Linked DNA regions of Homo sapiens: region 1 is linked to region 2. The links come from fine-mapping of genetic effects on gene expression. A gene starts in region 2. The other region holds a variant in brackets. All regions are shown on one strand. Distances are between the middles of the regions.

Region 1 (5,227 bases), 52 kb after region 2:
GGCCTTGTGGAGTTGAACGGCTTTAATTTCTGGGCCTGTGTCTCAAGAAGGTAGTTTATTTTGATTGGCATCTTCTATGGGGCCTGAAGATGAGGCTTTAATTGCTGTCAGTGTTTAAGAGTTAGAAAGGGATGGCCGAATAGGAACTGCTCCAGTCTACAGCTCCCAGTGTGAGTGACACAGAAGATGGGTATTTCTGCATTTCCAACTGAGGTACAAGGTTCATCTCACTGGGACTTGTTGGACAGTGGGTGCAGCCCATGTGAGTGTGAGTCAAAGAAGGGCGGGGTATCGCCTCACCCTGGAAGCACAAGGGTTCGGAGAATTCCCTTTCCTAGCAAAGGGAAGCCGTGACAGACGGTACCTGGAAAATCGGGACACTCCCACCCTAATACTGCGCTTTTCCAATGGTCTTAGCAAACGGCACACCAGGAGATTATATCCCATGCCTGGCTGGGAGGGTCCCATGCCCATGGAGCCTTGCTCACTGCTAACACAGCAGTCTGAGATTGAACTGCAAGGTGGCAGTGAGGCTGAGGGAGGGGCGTCTGCAATTGCTGAGGCTTGACTAGGTAAACAAAGCGGCCGGGAAGCTTGAACTGGGTGGAGCCCACTGCAGCTCTAGGAGGCCTGCCTGCCTCTGTAGACTCCACCTCTGGGGTCAGGGCACAGCTGAACAAAAGGCAGCAGAAACTTCTGCAGACTTAAACGTCCCTGTCTGACAGCTTTGAAGAGAGTAGTGGTTCTCCCAGCACGGAGTTTGAGATTTGAGAACTGACAGACTGCCTCCTCAAGTGGGTCCCTGACCCCCGAATAGCCTAACTGGGAGACAACTCCCAGTAGGGGCCGACTGACACCTCATACAGCCGGGTGCCCCTCTGAGACGAAGCTTCTAGAGGAAGGATCAGGCAGCAACATTTGCTGTTCTGCAATATTTGCTGTTCTGCAGCCTCCGCTAGTGATACCCCAGCAAACAGGGTCTGGAGAGGACCTCCAGCAAACTCCAACAGACCTGCAGCTGAGGGTCCTGACTGTTAGAAGGAAAACTAACAAACAGAAAGGAATAGGATCAACATCAATAAAAAGGACATCCACACCAAAACCCCATCTGTAGGTCACCATCATCAAAGACCAAAGGTAGATAAAACCACAAAGATGGGGAGAAACCAGAGCAGAAAAGCTGAAAATTCTAAAAGTCAGAGCACCTCTTCTCCTCCAAAAGAATGCAGCTCCTCACCAGCAATGGAACAAAGCTGGACGGAGAATGACTTTGACAAGTTGACAGAAGTAGGCTTCAAAAGATCAGTAAGTAAAACAAACTTCTCTGAGCTAAAGGAGGATGTTCAAACCCATCGCAAAGAAGCTAAAAACATTGAAAAAAGATTAGACAAATGGATAACTAGAATAAACAGCGTAGCGAAGACCTTAAATGACCTGATGGAGCTGAAAACCATGGCACAAGAACTACATGATGCACGCATAAGCTTCAGCAGCCGATTTGATCAAATGGAAGAAAGGGTATCAGTGACTGAAGATCAAATGAATGAAATGAAGTGAGAAGAGAAGTTTAGAGAAAAAAAGAGTTAAAAGAAACGAACAAATCCTCCAAGAAATATGGGACTATGTGAAAAGACCAAATCTTCGTCTGATTGGTGTACCTGAAAGTGACGGGGAGAACCAAGTTGGAAAACGCTCTTCAGGATATTATCGAGGAGAACTTCCCCAACCTAGCAAGGCAGGCCAACATTGAAATTCAGGAAATACAGAGAATGCCATAAAGATACTCCTTGAGAAGAGCAACCCCAAGACACATAATTGTCAGATTCACCAAGGTTGAAATGACAGAAAAAATGTTAAGGGCAGCCAGAGAGAAAGGTCGCGTTACCCACAAAGGGAAGCCCATCAGACTAACAGCGGACCTCTCAGCAGAAACTCTATAAGCCAGAAGAGAGTGGGGGCCAATATTCAACATTCTTAAAGAAAATAATTTTCAACCCAGAATTTCATATCCAGCCAAACTTCATAGGTGAAGGAGAAATAAAATCCTTTACAGACAAGCAAATGCTGAGGGATTTTGTCACCACCAGCCTTACAAGAGCTCCTGAAGGAAACACTAAACATGAAAAAGAACTGGTACCAGCCACTGGAAAAACATGCCAAATTGTAAAGACCATTGATGCTAGGAAGAAACTGCATCAACTAACAAGCAAAATAACCAGCTAACATCATAATGACAGGATCAAATTCACATATAACAATATTAACCTTAAATGTAAATGGGCTAAATGCCCCCAATTAAAAGACACAGACTGGCAAATTCGATAATGAGTCAAGACGCATCATCAGTGTGCTGTATTCAGGAGACCCATCTCATGTGCAGAGACACACATAGGCTCAAAATAAAGGGATGGAGGAAGATCTACCAAGCAAATGGAAAGCAAAAGAAAAGCAGGGGTTGCAATCCCAGTCTCTGATAAAACAGACTTTAAGCCAACAAAGATCAAAAGAGACAAAGAAGGCCATTACATAATGGTAAAGGGATCAATTCAACAAGAAGAGATAACTATCCTAAATATATATGCACCCAATACAGGAGCACCCAGCTTCATAAAGCAAGTCCTTAGAGACCTACAAAGAGACTTAGACTTCCACACAATAATAATAGGAGACTTTAACACTCCACTGTCAACATTAGACAGATCAATGAGACAGAAAGTTAACAAGGATATCCAGGACTTTAACTCAGCTCTGCACCAAGCAGACCTAATAGACTTCTACAGAACTCTCCACCCCAAATCAACAGAATATACATTCTTCTCCGCACCACATGGCACTTATTCCAAAATTGACCACATAGTTGGAAGTAAAGCGCTCCTCAACAAATGTAAAAGAACAGAAATTATAACAAACTGTCTCTCAGACCACAGTGCAATCAAATTAGAACTCAGGATTAAGAAACTCACTCAAAACCACTCAACTACATGGAAACTGAACAACCTGCTCCTGAATGGCTATTGAGTAAATAACTAAGTGAAAGCAGAAATAAAGATGTTCTTTGAAACCAATGAGAACAAAGACATGACGTACCAGAATCTCTGGGACACATTTAAAGTAGTGTGTAGAGGGAAATTTATAGCACTAAATGCCCACAAGAGAAAGCAGGAAAGATCTAAAATTGACACCCTAAAATCACAATGAAAAGAACTAGAGAAGCAAGAGCAAACACATTCAAAAGCTAGCAGAAGG[T/C]AAGAAATAACTAAGATCAGAGCCAGAACTGAAGGAGATAGAGACATGAAAAACCCTTCAAAAAATCAATGAATCTAGGAGCTGGTTTTTTGAAAAGATCAACAAAATTGATAGACCACTAGCAAGACTAATACAGAAGAAAAGAGAGAAGAATCAAATAGACTCAATAAAAAATGATAAAGGGGATGTCACCACCAATCCCACAGAAATACAAATGACCATCAGAGAATACTATAAACACCTCTGTGCAAATAAACTAGAAAATCTACCTTCCTGGACACATACACCCTCCCAAGACTAAACCAGGAAGAAGTTGAATCCCTGAATAGATCAATAACAGGCTCTGAAATTGAGGTAATAATTAATAGCCTACCAACCAAAAAAAGTCCAGGACCAGATGGATTCACAGCCGAATTCTACCAGAGGTACAAAGAGGAGCTGGTACCATTCCTTCTGAAACTATTCCAATCAATAGAAAACAAGGGAATTCTCCCTAACTCATTTTATGAGGCCAGCATCATCCTGATACCATAGCCTGGCAGAGACACAACAAAAAAAGAGAATTATAGACCAATATCCCTGATGAACATTGAAGTGAAAATGCTCAATAAAATACTAGCAAACTGAATCCAGCAGCACATCAAAAAGCTTATCCATCATGATCAAGTTGGCTTCATCCCTGGGATGCATGGCTGGTTTAACATATGCAAATCAATAAACGTAATCCATTATATAAACAGAACCAAAGACAAAAACCACATGATTGGGGCTGGGAGCGGTGGCTCACACCTGTAGTCCCAACACTTTGGGAGGCCAAGGTGGGCAGATCACGAGGTCAGGAGATTGAGACCATCCTGGCTAACATGGTGAAACCCCATCTCTACTAAAAATACAAAAAATTAGCTGGGTGTGGTGGTGGGTGCCTGTAGTTGCAGCTACTCGGGAGGCTGAGGCAGGAGAATGGCGTGAACCTGGGAGGCGGAGCTTGCAGTGAGCCAAGATCGCGCCACTGCACTCCAGCCTGGGCAACAAAGCGAGACTCTGTCTCAAAAACAAAAACCAAAAAAAAGCCCCACATGATTATCTCAATAGATGCAGAAAAAGCATTCAACAGCCCTTCATGCTAAAAACTCTCAATAAACTAGGTATTGATGGGACGTATCTCAAAATAATAAGAGCTATTTATGACAAACCCACAGCCAATATCATACTGAATGGGCAAAAACTGGAAGCATTCCCTTTGAAAACTGGCACAAGACAGGGATGCCCTCTCTCACCACTCCTATTCAACATAGTGTTGGAAGTTCTGACCAGGGCAATCAGGCAGGAGAAAGAAATAAAGGGTATTCAGTTAGGAAAAGAGGAAATCAAATTGTCCCTGATTGCAGATGACATGATTGTATATTTAGAAAACCCCATCGTCTTAGCCCAAAATCTCCTTAAGCTGATAAGTAACTTTAGCAAAGTCTCAGGATACAAAATCAATGTGAAAAAATCACAAGCATTCCTATACACCAATAAGAGACAAACAGAGAGCCAAATCATGAGTGAACTCCCATTCACTATTACTTCAAAGAGAATACCTAGGAATCCAACTTACAAGGGACGTGAAGGACCTCTTCAAGGAGAACTACAAACCACTGCTCAACAAAATAAAAGAGGACACAAACAAATAGAAGAACATTCCATGCTCACAGATAGGAAGAGTCAGTATCATGAAAATGGCCATGCTGCCCAAGATAATTTATAGATTCAATGCCATCCCCATCAAGCTACCAATGACTTTTTTCACAGAATTGAAAAAAACTACTTTAAAGTTCATATGGAACCAAAAAAGAGCCCACATTGCCAAGGAAATCATAAGCCAGAAGAACAAGGCTGGAGGCATCATGCCACCTGACTTCAAACTATACTACAAGGCTACAGTAACTAAAACAGCATGGTACTGGTACCAAAACAGAGATATAGACCAATGGAACAG
Region 2 (5,227 bases):
GGTTTTTGAGTGAATCAAATTAGATGGTAAGCCAAGCATGGTAGCACACACCTGTAGTCCCAGCTACTTAGGAGGCCAAGGCAGGAGGATTGTTTGAGCCCAGGAGTTCAAGACCAGCCTGAACAATATAGCAGAACCTGTCTCAAAAAAAAAAAACAATTAGTAGATTCAATGGCATTATCAAAGTAAACAAAGATTCATGAAGTAACTAATCTTTCGATTACCATAGCCATGAATTCTGGCCATAATTCTGCTCTGTTGCCCAGGCTGGAGTGCAGTGGCACCATCTCGGCTCATTGCAGCCTCCACCTCCCGAGTTCAAGTGATTCTCCTGCCTCAGCCTCCCGAGTAGCTGGGATTACAGTCATGCGCCTTCATGCCCGGCTAATTTTTGTAGTTTTAGTAGAGACAGGGTTTCACCATGTTGGCCAGGCTGGTCTCAAACTCCTGACCTCAGGTGATCTGCCCGCCTCGGCCTCCCAAAGTGCTGGGATTACAGGTATGAGCCACTGTGGCTGGCCAGTTCTGGCCATAATTCTAAAACCTAACTTCAGGACTAAAGCTCTCAAGAAGACTGGTGTTTTTGTTTTTGTTTTATAACAACGCTCCCATGTACTTGCATGAGTTAAATGCTGGTAGAGCAGATACTAGAGGATAATATAACCTGCCTGGATATCAAGTACATACCAGTCCTCAGGGACTGGCATAGATGGTGGAGATGCCCCATTTCCTGAATATACATTTTTTGTAACTTCTTACAGTTAAGATAGCTGAGTCAGCATTTTAACTGTTTATTAACAATGGAAACACATGGAATTTGAGTCATATTTCTGGGAAGGCAACAGATTCCATACTGGTAAGAAATTTTGTGTTCCCTTTTTGTGAGAATCGTAAACTGATGACAAATATCACTCATTCCGATTTAACAGATGGAAAAACTGAAGTATACAGTAGTGATGCTTAAGAAGGGCGCTATGCATAGCTGGTAAAATTTACCACCTATGTAGTATGATTTGATAGGTGCTTACATTCCTCAGTGTCACAGATTTTGTCCCCTGACAATCTGCCGGCATACCTGTAATTCCTACTGTTCACAGTTACTCCTTCAGGGCCATTTCAAGGTTCTCAATAAATGCTTATTTGAGTGATTGAACAAACAAGATACTAAAGACATAGAGTGCCTTAAATTGGATAGATGCCTTATCTGAAAAGTGTAAGATTATCGACTCTAGCATTATTTTGAATATATGTATACGATTTAACCCATTATTAGCTACTACTTAGGTGCCGGGTTTTGATGGAGTAGTATCCAGTAGGCTGATGTTTTATGTAGTGAAGATGTAGGAAAACGCTAGAGTTTTAGAGCAGCGCCTTTGGCTTCTAGGATCTTAGGGAAAGTAGGAGATGTGATACGCTTAACTAACCTGGATGCCACGTGAGATTTATTTATTTATTTTTGAAACAGGGTCTAGCTGTGTCACCCAGGCTGCAGTGCAGTGGCATGATCACGGCTCACTGTAGCCTGGACCTCCTGGGCTCAAGTGATCTTCCCACCTCAGCTTCCCAAGTAGCTGAGACCCCACCATGCCTGGCTAATTTATTATTATTATTATTATTTGTAAAGATGGGGTCTTGCTTTGTTGCTCAGGCTGGTCTCGAACTCCTGGGCTCAAATGATCCTCCTGCCTCAGCCTCCCAAACTGCAGGTATTACAGGCATGAGCCACCATGCCTGGTCTGCATGAATTTTGAAATATCAAAAGGAAGTAAATAAGATGGGAGAGATGCACCGTTCCTGGGTTTCTGGAGGTATTGAAATACAGGTTGATGTGTAGAGTGGTGGAGCAAACTCCTATTCCATCTCCTTGCTTCAAAAACCCATTTAACATATTTTCCTTGGATAGAGAATGTGTCAAATATTAAACTGTTAAGAACAGATACTACACTTGATCTTAGCCAAAAGGATAAGTTTCACTGGAGTAGCCTGCAGTAGATCTGGAGCTTCTCTTCTGGAGACCACTTAAGAGGCTACTTTAATAGGTGAAAAGATGATAAGGAATTAAAAAAAGGAACATTTCAGTGGTAACAGAGAGGCAGGGACAGATGGAAATATTTCAGGAATAGCATGGAAGATAATATTCCGCATCACCTGCACTCTGATTCACTCTGGTAAATGGGACACGTGGGGGATCGGCTTCCTAAGCTATCCCAGTACTTCACACATGTTTGTTTCTGTGCCCATGAAATCGCCAGTGTCTTTAAGGTAAGGATCATATATTTTTATCTGTGTTCCTAGAACCCTTTCAAAGACACGCTGAAAGGTGGCCTGTATGGTTGCTGAATCATTGGTAAATAGACATTCATAAATGACTAAAGATTACAGGTTATCTCACAGTAAAATCATTAGCATTAAAAGTTCAGTAATGACTGATGAGACACTACACTGATTACATTTCAACCTAATCTTTCAAAAGCGATTTATTTTTAAAAGTCTCCATTAAACTGGCAAATTCCTCATCCCACAAATAGCCATAAAGACTGGAGTACCAGCTTCAAAATACTTTTTTTTCTTTTTTCTTTTTGAGACGAAGTCTCGCTCTTGTTCCCCAGGCTGGAGTGCGATGGCGCGATCTCTGCTCATTGCAACCTCCGCCTCCCGGGTTCAAGCGATTCTCCTGCCTCGGCCCCCCAGTAGCTGGGATTACAGGCGCCTGCCACCACGCCCGGCTAATTTTTGTATTTTTTTTTTTTAATAGAGACGGGGTTTTACCATGTTGACCAGGCTGATCTAGAACTCCTGACCTCAGGTGATCTACCGGCCTCGGCCTCCCAAAGTGCTGGGATTACAGGCCACCCACCCAGGCCACCGCGCCCGGCCTCAAAATACTTTTTTCCTTAGCTGATTTTATCGAGTGGCTATGTGCCTAAGGGAGTGTTCTAAGCAGACGTTAGTTAGGACCCAGAACGTGGGAAGTACTGGTTTCCAGATCAATTTGGTGGTGATCGTAAACCGATTCAAATCTCTAAATCCCAATTGCACGCCGACGTTACGGAACCAAAAACGCTGACGCCCACATTTCTGGGCGGACGCACAAGTATGTTACGATGGCTCGATTGCTTTTGCCTAGCGGAAACCATTCACTAAGGACCGAGCACCAAATAACCAAGGAAAAGGAAGTGAGTTAAGGACGTACTCGTCTTGGTGAGAGCGTGAGCTGCTGAGATTTGGGAGTCTGCGCTAGGCCCGCTTGGAGTTCTGAGCCGATGGAAGAGTTCACTCATGTTTGCACCCGCGGTGATGCGTGCTTTTCGCAAGAACAAGACTCTCGGCTATGGAGTCCCCATGTTGGTGAGTGGAGTGAGGAGGATCTTCCGCAAGGGGTGGGACCCTCCTCCTTGGCAGGATCAAGACCTGGGAGGGAATCTGTAAAATGTGAAGTTAAGGGCTGGCACTCGGGCTAGGAAGGAGCTAGCGACGGGGTGAGAGCTTTCCTAAAAGCTCTTCCACCAGTCTTTTCCACACCCCCACTTCCCCGCCGCTGTCCCCCACTCCCGGTTGGATTTCAGGTGTACTAGGATCTGTCTGCTTGTGAGCGTGGCGTCTTTCCCATCGTCGAACGCGGTCATTGTTACTACCCTTGATTCACAGTTAAGTAAATTGAAGCTCAGAGAATTCAGTCAGAACCACACTTTAAGCCAAGTTTGGATGATTACTAAGCTTGCTTCCTCGCCCCCAACTTAGCTATGTTTTGACGATACTGTGGATCATTGGGACTAGATGTATTCCATTTAACTGCACGAATTCCTGGTATCTTTCTGTTTCATCTTTCTAGTTTGTGAATTAGCTTAATACTTAGAGTTGTGATGAACTAATAACACCTTGTGAATAAAGTGTTGAGTACGGTGCCTGCCACATTGTAGCCAGAATGATTGCTGTGTTATAATTTCTAAAGCACGTTGAAAACAGCTTCCGTGTTTATATGGTTTCATCCATATCCACACTGAGTTCCCTAAGGATGTCATGAAATGCAGGCTGAGGCTGGCTTAAGACAACCAGAGTTGAAATCCAGATGACTCTTATTTGCTTTTTGATTACGGGCCAGTTATTTTGCTTCAGCAAGCCTTGATGTGTTAGTAAATGAAATAATTAAAGCATATGAACAAAAGCTGCTTTTAAATACAGACTATATTTTTATTTTGTATGAATGTTGGCGCAGATGAAATTACCAGCTTTTCCATTTAAGCAGACTAAAGGAAAGAAGTGATCTTAGAAAGGTAATGGATATTTTACACAGTTTTGAAAAATCCACATTCATCAAATGTGGATTTTAGGAATCTCCAAAAGATTCACCCATTTGAAGTATCTGGGCCAAGCACGATGGCTCACACCTGTAATCCCAGTGTTAGGGGAAGCCAAGACAGGAGGATCGCTTTAGGTCAGGAGTTCCAAACCAGCAAGACCTCTGTCTCTCCAAAAAAAAAAAAAAAAAAAAAAATTGTTGTTTTTAGCAAATTCGATATTAGTATACTAATATATTCGTATATTAGTATATTCTTAGTTATGGAGCCATCACCACAATTTTAGAACATTTTCATTGCCCCCAAAAAAGCATCATAACTAATAGTAGTCACTTCCCATTTCTTCCTGCCTCTTAATGCTGGCCTGGTAAACCACTAATCTACTTCTACCCGTAAATTTGCTTATTCTGCACATTTCATATTAACACACTAATACAACGTGGGTTTTTTGTGACTGGATTCTTCCACTTAGAATGTTTTTAAGGTTCATTCACATTGTAACATATATCAATACTTCATTCCTTTTGATGGATATAATTCCATTGTTTGGATATATTTTATCAATTGATGAACATTTGGGTTGTTTCAATTTTTGACTATTATGAATAATGCTGCTATGAACATTTATGTACACGCTTTGTGTGGAAGTATGTTTTCATTTCTCTCAGGTAGGGAATATACCTAGACGTGGAATTGCTAGGTCATATGGTAACTCTTCAACTTTTTAGGATGTGCCAGATGTTTTCCAAAGTGGCTGCATCATTTTACATTCCCACCAGCAAGATATGATTTTCAATTTCTCCACATCCTTGCCAACACTTGTTATTGTCCATCTTTTGAATTATTACCCTTTCTAGTAGGTGTGAAGTGATACCTCATTGTGGTTTTGATTTTCATTTCCCTAACGACTTATTATGTTGAGCATCTTT

Alleles and levels. Positions count from the first base shown, and alleles are read on the strand shown. Sizes are in standard deviations (SD) of each study's normalised expression.
With allele C in place of T in region 1, the expression in lymphoblastoid cells of the gene that starts at base 3,184 in region 2 is higher (moderate effect, 0.56 SD a copy in GTEx).

The links. PIP is the estimated chance that this variant, and not a neighbour inherited with it, causes the effect.
Region 1: its variant is fine-mapped to the expression of COX16 in lymphoblastoid cells (GTEx, PIP above 0.99).

Annotation. Positions count from the first base shown.
Region 1 is chr14:70,306,100-70,311,326 of GRCh38, reverse strand. All of the region lies in intron 4 of LOC101928046 (a long non-coding RNA gene), which reads right to left. Among named protein-coding and RNA genes, the nearest start is that of COX16, 51 kb to the left of the region's middle. The variant T/C (reference allele first, on the strand shown) is at 3,247.
Region 2 is chr14:70,357,640-70,362,866 of GRCh38, reverse strand. COX16 (cytochrome c oxidase assembly factor COX16) reads left to right here and starts at 3,184. Exons shown (of 4, transcript NM_016468.7): 1 at 3,184-3,348. The coding sequence starts at 3,280. All of the region lies in intron 3 of SYNJ2BP-COX16 (SYNJ2BP-COX16 readthrough), which reads left to right. It also overlaps the pseudogene RNU2-51P. RefSeq lists enhancers at 2,605-2,694, 3,155-3,464.